2 separate regions of the Homo sapiens genome follow, and region 2 is linked to region 1. The links come from fine-mapping of genetic effects on gene expression. A gene starts in region 1. The other region holds a variant in brackets. All regions are shown on one strand. Distances are from middle to middle. Region 1 holds the start of RINL (Ras and Rab interactor like). Region 2 has its middle 7.2 kb from the start of LGALS7B.

Region 1 (5,371 bases):
TCCAGGCCTCTGGGACATTCACTGCCCTTTTGAGCAAGTGATAGAATTCCAACTCAAACCAGCTGAAGCCAGATAGGAAGGCCGGGCTTCCAGGGACTGAGGAGGTGGGAGGGGGTGCAGGGGTCAGGAGAGACAGTGCGGGGGGCGGGGTTGGGTCCACGCTCTGGGTCTCTCAGGTCTGTTTTTCCTGGGCAGCCTCACTCTAGGGCAGGTGCTCCCTCCTAGGTGTTCCCCTCAGGGGAAGTAGGCAGGGTCACCGGGCAAGCAGCGCACGCTGTGGGCAGACACTGTCCCAAGTCTTAGCCTGCGTGAACTCACTGGCGCCACAACCCCATCGCGGTTTTGTGATCACCCCTATTCTACAGGAAACTAAGACACAGAGAGGACAAGTCACTTGACCAAAGTCACTGAGCTGGCTGGGCGCAATGGCTCACGCCTGTAATTCCAGCACTTTGGGAGGCCGAGGCGGGTGGATCACCTGAGGTCAGGAGTTCGAGACCAGCCTGACCAACATGGTGAAACCCCGTCTCTACTAATAATACAAAATTAGCCGGGCATGGTGCTGGGCACCTGTCATCCAGGCTACTCGGGAGGTTGAGGCGGGAGAATCACTTGAACCCAGGAGGTGGAGGTTGCAGTGAGCCGAGATCACATCATTGCACTCCAGCCTGGGCAACAAGAGTGAAACTTTGTCTCAAAAAAAACCAAAAAAACAACAACAAAAAAAAAACAAAGTCACAGAGCTAGGATACAAACCCAGGCCACCTGGCTCCAGGGTCTGTGCTCTTAGCTCTCCCTTCCCTGCTCCTGCCCCTGACCCACCCCCTCCCTGACAGTCGGACCCTTTCCTGGGGATGATTATGGGCCTCGGAGGAGGCATGGACTTTGACTCCAAGAAGGCCTACAGGTGAGGCCCCGCCGGGGGTTGGGGCAGCCTGGAAGGGACAGGGTGAGGTGGGAGCGGGGGCACGAAGGCAGATGAGAGGAGCAGGCAGGGGCGAGCCCGCCTGGGAACTCTGATCTCCTGCTGCACCGCAGGGACGTGGCCTGGCTGGGTGAATGCGACCAGGGCTGCCTGGCCCTTGCTGAGCTCCTTGGATGGAAGGTGAGGAGCTGAGCAACCCCAGCCTGTCCTGAGCCCCATCCCTGGACCCTCTCCCCACCCCATGGGTCCTCTGACCCCATGATGCACAGTGACCTTTGACTTCTGTGACCTTTGCTCCTGCAGAAGGAGCTGGAGGACCTTGTCCGGAGGGAGCACGCCAGCATAGATGCCCAGTCGGGGGCGGGGGTCCCCAACCCCAGCACTTCAGCTTCCCCCAAGAAGTCCCCGCCACCTGCCAAGGACGAGGCCAGGACAACAGAGAGGGAGAAACCCCAGTGACAGCTGCATCTCCCAGGCGGGATGCCGAGCTCCTCAGGGACAGCTGAGCCCCAACCGGGCCTGGCCCCCTCTTAACCAGCAGTTCTTGTCTGGGGAGCTCAGAACATCCCCCAATCTCTTACAGCTCCCTCCCCAAAACTGGGGTCCCAGCAACCCTGGCCCCCAACCCCAGCAAATCTCTAACACCTCCTAGAGGCCAAGGCTTAAACAGGCATCTCTACCAGCCCCACTGTCTCTAACCACTCCTGGGCTAAGGAGTAACCTCCCTCATCTCTAACTGCCCCCACGGGGCCAGGGCTACCCCAGAACTTTTAACTCTTCCAGGACAGGGAGCTTCGGGCCCCCACTCTGTCTCCTGCCCCCGGGGGCCTGTGGCTAAGTAAACCATACCTAACCTACCCCAGTGTGGGTGTGGGCCTCTGAATATAACCCACACCCAGCGTAGGGGGAGTCTGAGCCGGGAGGGCTCCCGAGTCTCTGCCTTCAGCTCCCAAAGTGGGTGGTGGGCCCCCTTCACGTGGGACCCACTTCCCATGCTGGATGGGCAGAAGACATTGCTTATTGGAGACAAATTAAAAACAAAAACAACTAACAATCCGGTCTGGCCTCCTGTTTCTTTCTGTGGGCACCCAGGGAAATCTCTGAAGGGAGGGGGTTAGATCTTGGGCCACTAAGGAACCAGAAAGTCTCCGGGATCCAGAGTGAGGGGTAACAAGAGGGTCCTCACGGGGGCCCTCGTGGCTCTGACCCCTGGACTCCCAGCCTGCCAGTGTCCCTTCCTCTAAGCCCCGTCACTAAAGGCCTGAGGCCCCAGAAAGAGGGAGGAAAGTTGACTTCAGATACCCCAGCCCCGCCTCTTCCCCCTGCCTGCTCAGCTTCCTCTCTCCACTTCCTGCTACTGCAGGCCTCTCCTCCGAGAACAGGTAGGGCCCCCAGGAACCGAGCATCTGGCATCTTCAGCCCCTGCTGCCTCCCTTTGGTATGAGGCAGCTGCCCTGACCCACCCCTGCCACGCACTGCCCACAGCCTCCTCTCCTGCCACGGTACACAAGCAGGCATCTGCTTCCCTCTCCCCTCCCCTCCCCTCCCTTCCTTCCTGCTCTTGCCTGGGCAGGGCACCTGCGCCTCCCTGCCCACCTCCCTCCTTCCTAATAACACCCTGGCCTTCTGGTCAATGGCCTAATGTATTTGTTTAGCTGCCTATTATCCATATGCTACACCTGCCCCAAACAAGAATGGAAGGCCCTGAGGGGAGGAGCCTGTCCTGTTCATCACCCTCTCTCCAGGGCAGAGGCACCTAATTCCAGCCTGTATTCAGTAAATACTGGATGGATGGAAGGAAGGAAGGAAGGGAGGGAGGGAGGGAGGGAGGATGGATCCTCCCCCGATCCAGGTCTCCTGCTCCTGGGACTGCTGCTGGGATAAGTGCCACCCTAAGTGATAACCTACGTAGGACTCTGTACCTGGTTAGGAGCTGGGGCCTGATGGGTGGATGAAGAGAGAGAGGAACAGATGTGTGATAAAGCAAGATGAGTAAAATGTTCATGGTAGAATCTTGGTAGTGGGCATAGGGATGTTTCCTGTACAATTCTTTCAGCTTTTCTCTATGTCTGAAATTTTTCATAATAAAATGCTGGGGGAAGAGATTCAGTGGCCCCTCCATGGTGTGGGAAGGGAGGAAGAGGGGATGTTATTACCTTTCCAGATATAGGGACTGCCTACTCTGGGCCAAGAACTTTTCCAGGCGCTGACTGGGTTTTGCCAAGGGCTGGCCCACATTTACACAGCCCCCATGGCTGTTAAAAATCTTAACATATTTCCTACCACTTCAGTAAAGAGCTATTGTTTTGAGTCCTCTCCCCACACCGCAAGACACACTGGCCTCTCTCCTGGGATCCCCAGATTCCCCACCATCCGGTACTAAAGATTTAACCCCTGCCGGCCGGGTGTGGTGGCTCATGCCTGTAATCTCAGCACTTTGGGAGGCCGAGGCGGGGGGATCACTTGAGGTCAGGAGTTTGAGACCAGCCTGGGTAACACGTCAAAACCTTGTCTCTACTAAAAAATACAAAAATTACCCAGGCGTGGTGGTGCACGCCTGTAATCCCAACTACTCGGGAGACTGAGGCACAAGAATCGCTTGAACCTACGAGGCGGAGGTTGCAGTGAGCTGAGATCGTGCCACTGCACTGCAGTCTGGGCAATACAGTGAGACTCCGTCTCAAAAATAAAATAAAGAATTAACCCCTGCCACGGCAAGCGGCCTCTGGGGTCCATTCTGATTGGTCAGGGTCTCTGCCATATTGATTGTAAATATCTTGAACATGACCCGAGGGCTAGAGCAGCTTTGAGTCTTACCTTTCTCCCTGCCAGAGGCCAGGTCATGACTCACTGGCTTCCTGCAACCTGACGATGGCCCAGCCAGAAGACAAGGCACCTGAAGTCCCCACAGAGGGGGTGAGGTGAGGCTACTAGGGCTGAGGCTATGCCCTCCTTCCCCTGCATCCAGAAACCCTTTCCATCCAATACCTCCCTCACTACAGAATCCTGAATCACATCTCTGAGCCTCTGCCCTGGGCCTGCCCCTTCCTGTACCTTTGACCTCACCTCATTGTCCCACTGCCCACCTCTGACCCCTGACTCCCTGGACACTGTCCATCCCAGGCTGGTCCCACCACAGGTGAACAAAGCAGACAGGACCCCTCTAGGGGTCCTCAGCACCCTAGAGCCACTTACTCGCCTGCAGAGGACATGGGGGGTGTGGCATGTGCCAGAGCTGGATACCCAGGATGCGGAGGCCCTTGTGGGGCTGTGGCCACTAGGGGTGAGTACTCACAGCTGGGGGCCCATCCTGACACCCTAGATTAGGACTCTGCTGGTTACTAGTGACAAACATGACACAAATTGGGCAAACCAAAAAGGCTATTTATTGCTGGGTGCAATGGCTCATGCCTGCAGTCCTAGCTACTCATGAGGCTGAGGTGGGAGGATCATTTGAGCTCAGGAGGTCAAGGCGGCAGTGAGCTGAGATCATGCCACTTCACTTGAGCCTGGGTGATGGAGCAAGACCCTGTCTAAAAAAAAAAAAAAAAAAATGTAATTTCAAGAAGCTCTGGATCCTGAACTTCAGAACACTTATAAATTCCTCTTCATCCCATTTCTTGGCTTTGCTTTCAACTGCGGGGAATTTTGGATATTTGGGACTGAATATAACAAACACCTGTCCTACAGCGGTTTAAACAAATAGGCATTTATCTTCCTAACATAACCAAAAAGGCAGCTGCTGGCTTTAGATCAGCAGTGCAGTGACATTGAGGCCAGCATAGCTATAATTCTCTTGGACTTCTCTCACAGCTTCCCGGGGGCTGCCCCAGGCCCAAGCACCTGCGTGCATTCCAGGCAGGAAGAACAGAGGCACCACTTGCATCTGTTTATTTTACAGGAAAAATAAAGGTTTTCTTTTCTTTTTTTTTTTAATTTTGAGAGTTTCACTCTTGTTGCCCAGGCTGGAGTGCAATGGCATGATCTCGGCACACTGCAACTTCCGCCTCCCAGGTTCAAGCGATTCTCCTGCCTCAGCCTCCTGAGTAGCTGGGATTACAGGCATCTGCCACAACGCCCGGCTAATTTTTTGTATTTTTAGTAGAGATGGGATTTCACCATGTTGGCCAAGCTGGTCTCAAACTCCTGACGTCAGGTGATCCACCCACCTCTGCCTCCCAAAGTGCTGGGATTACAGGTGTGAACCACCGTCCCCGGCCAAAATAAAGGTTTTCACAACTGATTCAGAAAATATAGATGGCTGGCCGGGTGTGCTGACTCACGCCTGTAATCCCAGCATTTTGGGAGGCTGAGGTAGGAGGCTCGCTTAAGCCTAGGAGTTCAAGACCAGCCTGGGCAACAGAGCAAGGCCCAGTCTCTATTAAAAAAAAAAAAAAAAGAAAAAAGAAAAAAAAAAGGATGGGGCCCAGGTAGCAATATTTTTAA
Region 2 (5,371 bases), 81 kb after region 1:
GGTGGGAAGATTGCTTGAGCCCAGGAGTTCAAGACCAGCCTGGGCAACATGGCGAGACCCTGTCTCTACAAAAAATAAAAAAGTAAGCCAGATGTAGCAAACATCTGTAGTTCCAGCTGCTAGGGAGGCTGAGGCAGGAGGTTGGCTTGTGCCCAGGAGTTCAACGCTGCCGTGAACCATAATCAGGCCACTGCACTCTAGTCTGGACAACAGAGCAAAACTCTGTTTCTAAAAAAATACAAAATAGCTCCCTCCCCCTCCCCCTCCCCCTCTCCCTCTCCTCTTTCCACGGTCTCCCTCTGGACTGTGCTGCTGCCATCTCGGCTCACTGCAACCTCCCTGCCTGATTCTCCTGCCTCAGCCTGCCGAGTGCCTGCGATTGCAGGCGCGCGCCGCCACGCCTGACTGGTTTTCGTATTTTTTTGGTGGAGACGGGGTTTCGCTGTGTTGGCCGGGCTGGTCTCCAGCTCCTAACCGCGAGTGATCCGCCAGCCTCGGCCTCCCGAGGTGCCGGGATTGCAGACGGAGTCTCGTTAACTCAGTGCTCAATGGTGCCCAGGCTGGAGTGCAGTGGCGTGATCTCAGCTACAACCTCCACCTCCCAGCCGCCTGCCTTGGCCTCCCAAAGTGCCAAGAGTGCAGCCTCTGCCCGGCCGCTACCCCGTCTGGGAAGTGAGGTGCGTCTCTGCCTGGCCGCCCATCATCTGGGACGTGAGGAGTCCCTCTGCCTGGCTGCCCAGTCTGGAAAGTGAGGAGCGTCTCTGCCCGGCCGCCATCTCACCTAGGAAGTGAGGAGCACCTCTTCCCGGCCACCATCCCATCTAGGAAGTGAGGAGCGTCTCTGCCCGGCCGCCCATCGTCTGAGATGTGGGGAGCGCCTCTGCCCCGCCGCCCCGTCTGGGAGGTGAGGAGCGTCTCTGCCCGGCCGCCCCGTCTGAGAAGGGAGGAGACCCTCCGCCTGGCAACCGCCCCATCTGAGAAGTGAGGAGCCCCTCCGCCCGGCTGCCACCCTGTCTGGGAAGTGAGGAGCGTCTCCGCCCGGCAGCCACCCCGTCCGGAAGGGAGGTGGGGGGGTCAGCCCCCCGCCCGGCCAGCCGCCCCGGCCAGCCACCCCGTCTGGGAGGTGAGGGGCGCCTCTGCCCGGCCGCCCCTACTGGGAAGTGAGGAGCCCCTCTGCCCGGCCAGCCGCCCCGTCCGGGAGGGAGGTGGGGGAGTCAGCCCCCTGCCCAGCCAGCCGCCCCGTCCGGGAGGGAGGTGGGGGGGTCAGCCCCCCGCCAGGCGAGACGCCCCGTCCGGGAGGGAGGTGGGGGGTCAGCCCCCTGCCCGGCCAGCCGCCCGGTCCGGGAGGTGAGGGGCGCCTCTGCCCGGCCGCCCCTACTGGGAAGTGAGGAGCCCCTCTGCCCGGCCACCACCCCGTCTGGGAGGTGTACCCAACAGCTCATTGAGAACGGGCCATGATGACAATGGCAGTTTTGCGGAATAGAAAAGGGGGAAAGGTGGGGAAAAGATTGAGAAATCGGATGGTTGCTGTGTCTGTGTAGAAAGAAGTAGACATGGGAGACTTTTCATTTTGTTCTGTACTAAGAAAAATTCTTCTGCCTTGGGATCCTGTTGATCTATGACCTTACCCCCAACCCTGTGCTCTCTGAAACATGTGCTGTGTCCACTCAGGGTTAAATGGATTAAGGGCGGTGCAAGATGTGCTTTGTTAAACAGATGCTTGAAGGCAGCATGCTCGTTAAGAGTCATCACCATTCCCTAATCTCAAGTACCCAGGGACACACACACTCTGCCTAGGAAAACCAGAGACCTTTGTTCACTTGTTTATCTGCTGACCTTCCCTCCACTATTGTCCTGTGACCCTGCCAAATCCCCCCTCTGCGAGAAACACCCAAGAATGATCAATAAAAAAAAAATACAAAAATACAAAAATACAAAATATTAAAATAAAATAAAGAAATAGTGCTCGCTTCAGCAGCACATATACTAAAATCTGGAATGATGCAGAGAAGATTAGCATGGCCCCTGCGCAAGGATGACATGCAAATTTGTGAAGTGTTCCATATTTTTTGGCCAGGTGTGGTGGCTCACGCATGTAATCCCAACACTTTGGGAGGCCGAGGCAGGCGAATCACAAGGTCAGGAATTTTTGAGACTAGCCTGGCCAACGTGGTGAAACTCTGTCTCTACCAAAAATACAAAAAATTAGCCGGGCATAGTGGTGGGTGCCTGTAATCCCAGCTACTCGGGAGGCTGGGGCAGGAGAATCGCTTGAACCTGGGAGGCAGAGGTTGCAGTGAGCCGAGATCGCGCCACTGCACTCCAGCCTGGCAACAGAGTGAGACTCCTCTCAAAAAAAAAAAAAAAAAGAAGAAGAAGAAAAGAAAAAAAGAAGATGGTGATGGATGGATAGAAGGGTGGATAGATGGATCTATGTGTGATAAAGCAAGTTGAGTAAAATGTTATATAGAATCTGGTTAGGGTATATGAGGTATTCATAGAATAATTCTTTTAACTTTTCTGCATGTCTGAAAAAA[T/C]TCATAATAAAATGTTGGGGGAAACCTTTGCATACAAACTTTGCAAACATTGTATCATACAATGATATGAACTGTAAATTTTTTAGGAGTTAGAATGGTAATGAGGTTTTGTTTAAAAAGAGAGCCTGCCAGGCGTGGTGGCAGATGCCTGTAATCCTAGCTACTTGGGAGGCTAAGGTGGGAAGACTGTTTGAACCTGGGAGTTTGAGACCAGCCTGGGCAGCATAGTGAGACCCCATCTCAAAAATAAAAATTAAAAAATAAATATCATTTAGAATTATACACATATTTATGGATAAGATTATATAACACCTTTTAAAAATCCAATTTAAAATGGGCAGAAAATTTCGATAAACATTTCTGCAAAGAAGATATATAAACGGCAACCCATGTCATTAGGGAAATGCAAATCAAAACCACATGACATATCTCTTCACCAAGTGGTGAAGCCAACCTATTAGGATGGCTATAATAAAAAAGACAGATAGGTCAGGTGTGGTGGCTCATGCCTGTAATCCCAGCACTTTGGGAGGCCGGGGTGGGAGGATCACTTGAGGCTAAGAGTTCAGGACCAGCCTGGGCAACATAGCAAGAACCTGTCTCTACAAAAAATTTTTAAAAATTAGCCAAGCATGGGGACGCACACCTATAGTTCCAACTAATTGGGAGGCCTGAGGTAGGAGAATTGCTTGAGCCCAGGAGGTGGAGGCTGCAGTGAGCCATGATTTCACCACTGCACTCCAGCCTACACAACAGAACAAGACCCTGTCTCAAAAAAAAAAAAAAGACAATAACAAGTGTTGGAGAGAACATGGAGAAATAGGAACACATATGTTGCTGATGGTAATGTAAAATGTTACAGTTACTTTGGAAAATGGTTTGGCAGTTCTTTGAAACGGAACTTAAAAGAGTCATGTGACCCAGGAATTCTTTTTTTTTTTTTCTTTTTTGAGACGGAGTTTCGCTCTTGATGCCCAGACTGGAGTGCAGTGGTGCGATCTCGGCTCGCTGAAACCTCCACCTCCTGGGTTCAAGCGATTCTCCTGCCTCAGTCTCCCAAGTAGCTGGGATTACAGGCATGCACCACCACGCCCGGTTAATTTTGTATTTTTAGTAGAGATGGGGCTTTTCCATGTTGATCAGGCTGGTCTCGAACTCCTGACCTCAGGTGATCCATCTGCCTTGGCCTCCCAAAGTGGTGGAATTACAGGCATGAGCCACAGCACCTGGCCTGACCCAGAAATTCTCCTAGGTACTTACCCAAGAGACATGAAAACATGTTCACACAATAGGTTCATAGCAGCATTATTCATAATAGCCAAGATGTAGGAACAACCCAGATATCCATTATTCACCATGATGAATGGGTAAACGCGTATATTCGATCCACACATTGGAACAGCATTCAGCCATGAAAAGGAATGAAGTGCTGATGCATGCTATGACATGGACAAACCCTGAAAACATGATGCTCCGTGGAAGAAGCCAGATATACAGGGCCACATATTGTATGATTCCACGTGTGGAAAACAAGCAGATTCATAAATCCATACAGCTGGAAAGTAGGTTAGTGATTGCCAGGTGCTGGGGGAGGGGCAAGTTGGGGAGTGACTGCTTATGGGTATGGGGTTTCTTTTAGTTGTTCTTTTTTGTTTTGTTTTGTTTCTGAAACAGGGTTTCACTCTGTTGCTCAAGCTGGAGTGCAGTGGAGCGATCACGGCTCTCTGCAGCCTCGACCTCTCCAGCTCAAGCCATCCTCCTAGCTCAGCCTCCCGAGTAACTGGGACCACAGGTGTGTACCACCATGCCCAGCTAAAATTATTTTTTGTAGAGATGAGGTCTCCCTATATTTCCCAGGTTGTTTTTTTTTTTTTTTTTTTTTTTTTTTGACACAGAGCTTTGCTCTGTCACCCAGGCTGGAGTGCAATGGTGCTATCTGCTCACTGCAGCCTCCGCCTACCGGGTTCAAGCAATTCTCCTGCCTCAGCCTCCCACGTAGCTGGGATTACAGGTGCGTGCCACCACGCCTGGCTAATTTTTTGTATTTTGAGTAGAGATGTGGTTTTGCCATGTTGGCCAGGCTAGTCTCGAGCTCCTGAGCTCAAGTGATCCGCCCATCTCAGCCTCCCAAAGTGCTGAGATTACAAGTGTGAGCCACAGCGCCCGGCCTCAGGCTGGTCTTGAACTCCTGGGCTCAATCAATCCTTCCGCTTCAGGCTCCCAAAGTGCTGGGATTACATCTGTGAGCCAAGGTCTTTTGAGATGATAAAAATGTTCTAAAATTAGATTGTGTTGATGGATGCACAACCTTGTGAATATACTGAAAAACATTGACTTGTATACTTTGAATGGGTGACTTGTATAGCATATGAGTTATATGTCAATAGAGCTGTTACAGAAAGATCCAGGAGGATGGGGAGGAGAGAAGGGAAGCTGAATCATAAATTCTAAATTTCTTTGAAGACAAACTTAATAAAGAAGGATTTAGGTTGGGCACCATGGCTCACACCTGTAATCCCAGCACTCTGGGAAGCCTCGGTGGGAGGATCGCTTGAGCTCAGGAGTTTGAGTCCAGGAGTTCAAGACCAGCCTGGGCAACATAGCAAGACCCTGGCTCTACAAACACCCGCCCCCCCCAAAAAAATTAGCCTGGCACCATGGCACGTGCCTGTAGTCTCAGCTACTTGGGGGGCTGAGGTGGGAGGATGGCTTCAGCCTGGGAGGTTGAGGCTGCAGTAAGCCCTTATCCACAACTCCACTCAGCCTGGGCAACAGAGCAAGACCCTGCCTCAACAAAAAAAATTTTTTATTTAAAAATTTTTGATGAACTGTTA

Evidence for each region. PIP is the estimated chance that this variant, and not a neighbour inherited with it, causes the effect.
Region 2: its variant is the best candidate, but not a certain one, in a credible set for the expression of RINL in whole blood (TOPMed, PIP 0.55).

Annotation. Positions count from the first base shown.
Region 1 is chr19:38,875,168-38,880,538 of GRCh38, reverse strand. It overlaps RINL (Ras and Rab interactor like), which reads left to right and starts at 2,264. Exons shown (of 12, transcript NM_001195833.2): 1 at 2,264-2,307; 2 at 3,758-3,846; 3 at 4,049-4,208. The coding sequence starts at 3,797. It overlaps SIRT2 (sirtuin 2), which reads left to right. Exons shown (of 16, transcript NM_012237.4): 14 at 837-907; 15 at 1,039-1,105; 16 at 1,229-1,979. The coding sequence ends at 1,384. RefSeq lists enhancers at 1,628-1,727, 1,768-1,887 and a silencer at 2,428-2,477.
Region 2 is chr19:38,793,701-38,799,071 of GRCh38, reverse strand. It overlaps the pseudogene RNU6-140P. Among named protein-coding and RNA genes, the nearest start is that of LGALS7B, 7.2 kb to the right of the region's middle. RefSeq lists an enhancer at 1,075-1,989. The variant T/C (reference allele first, on the strand shown) is at 2,538.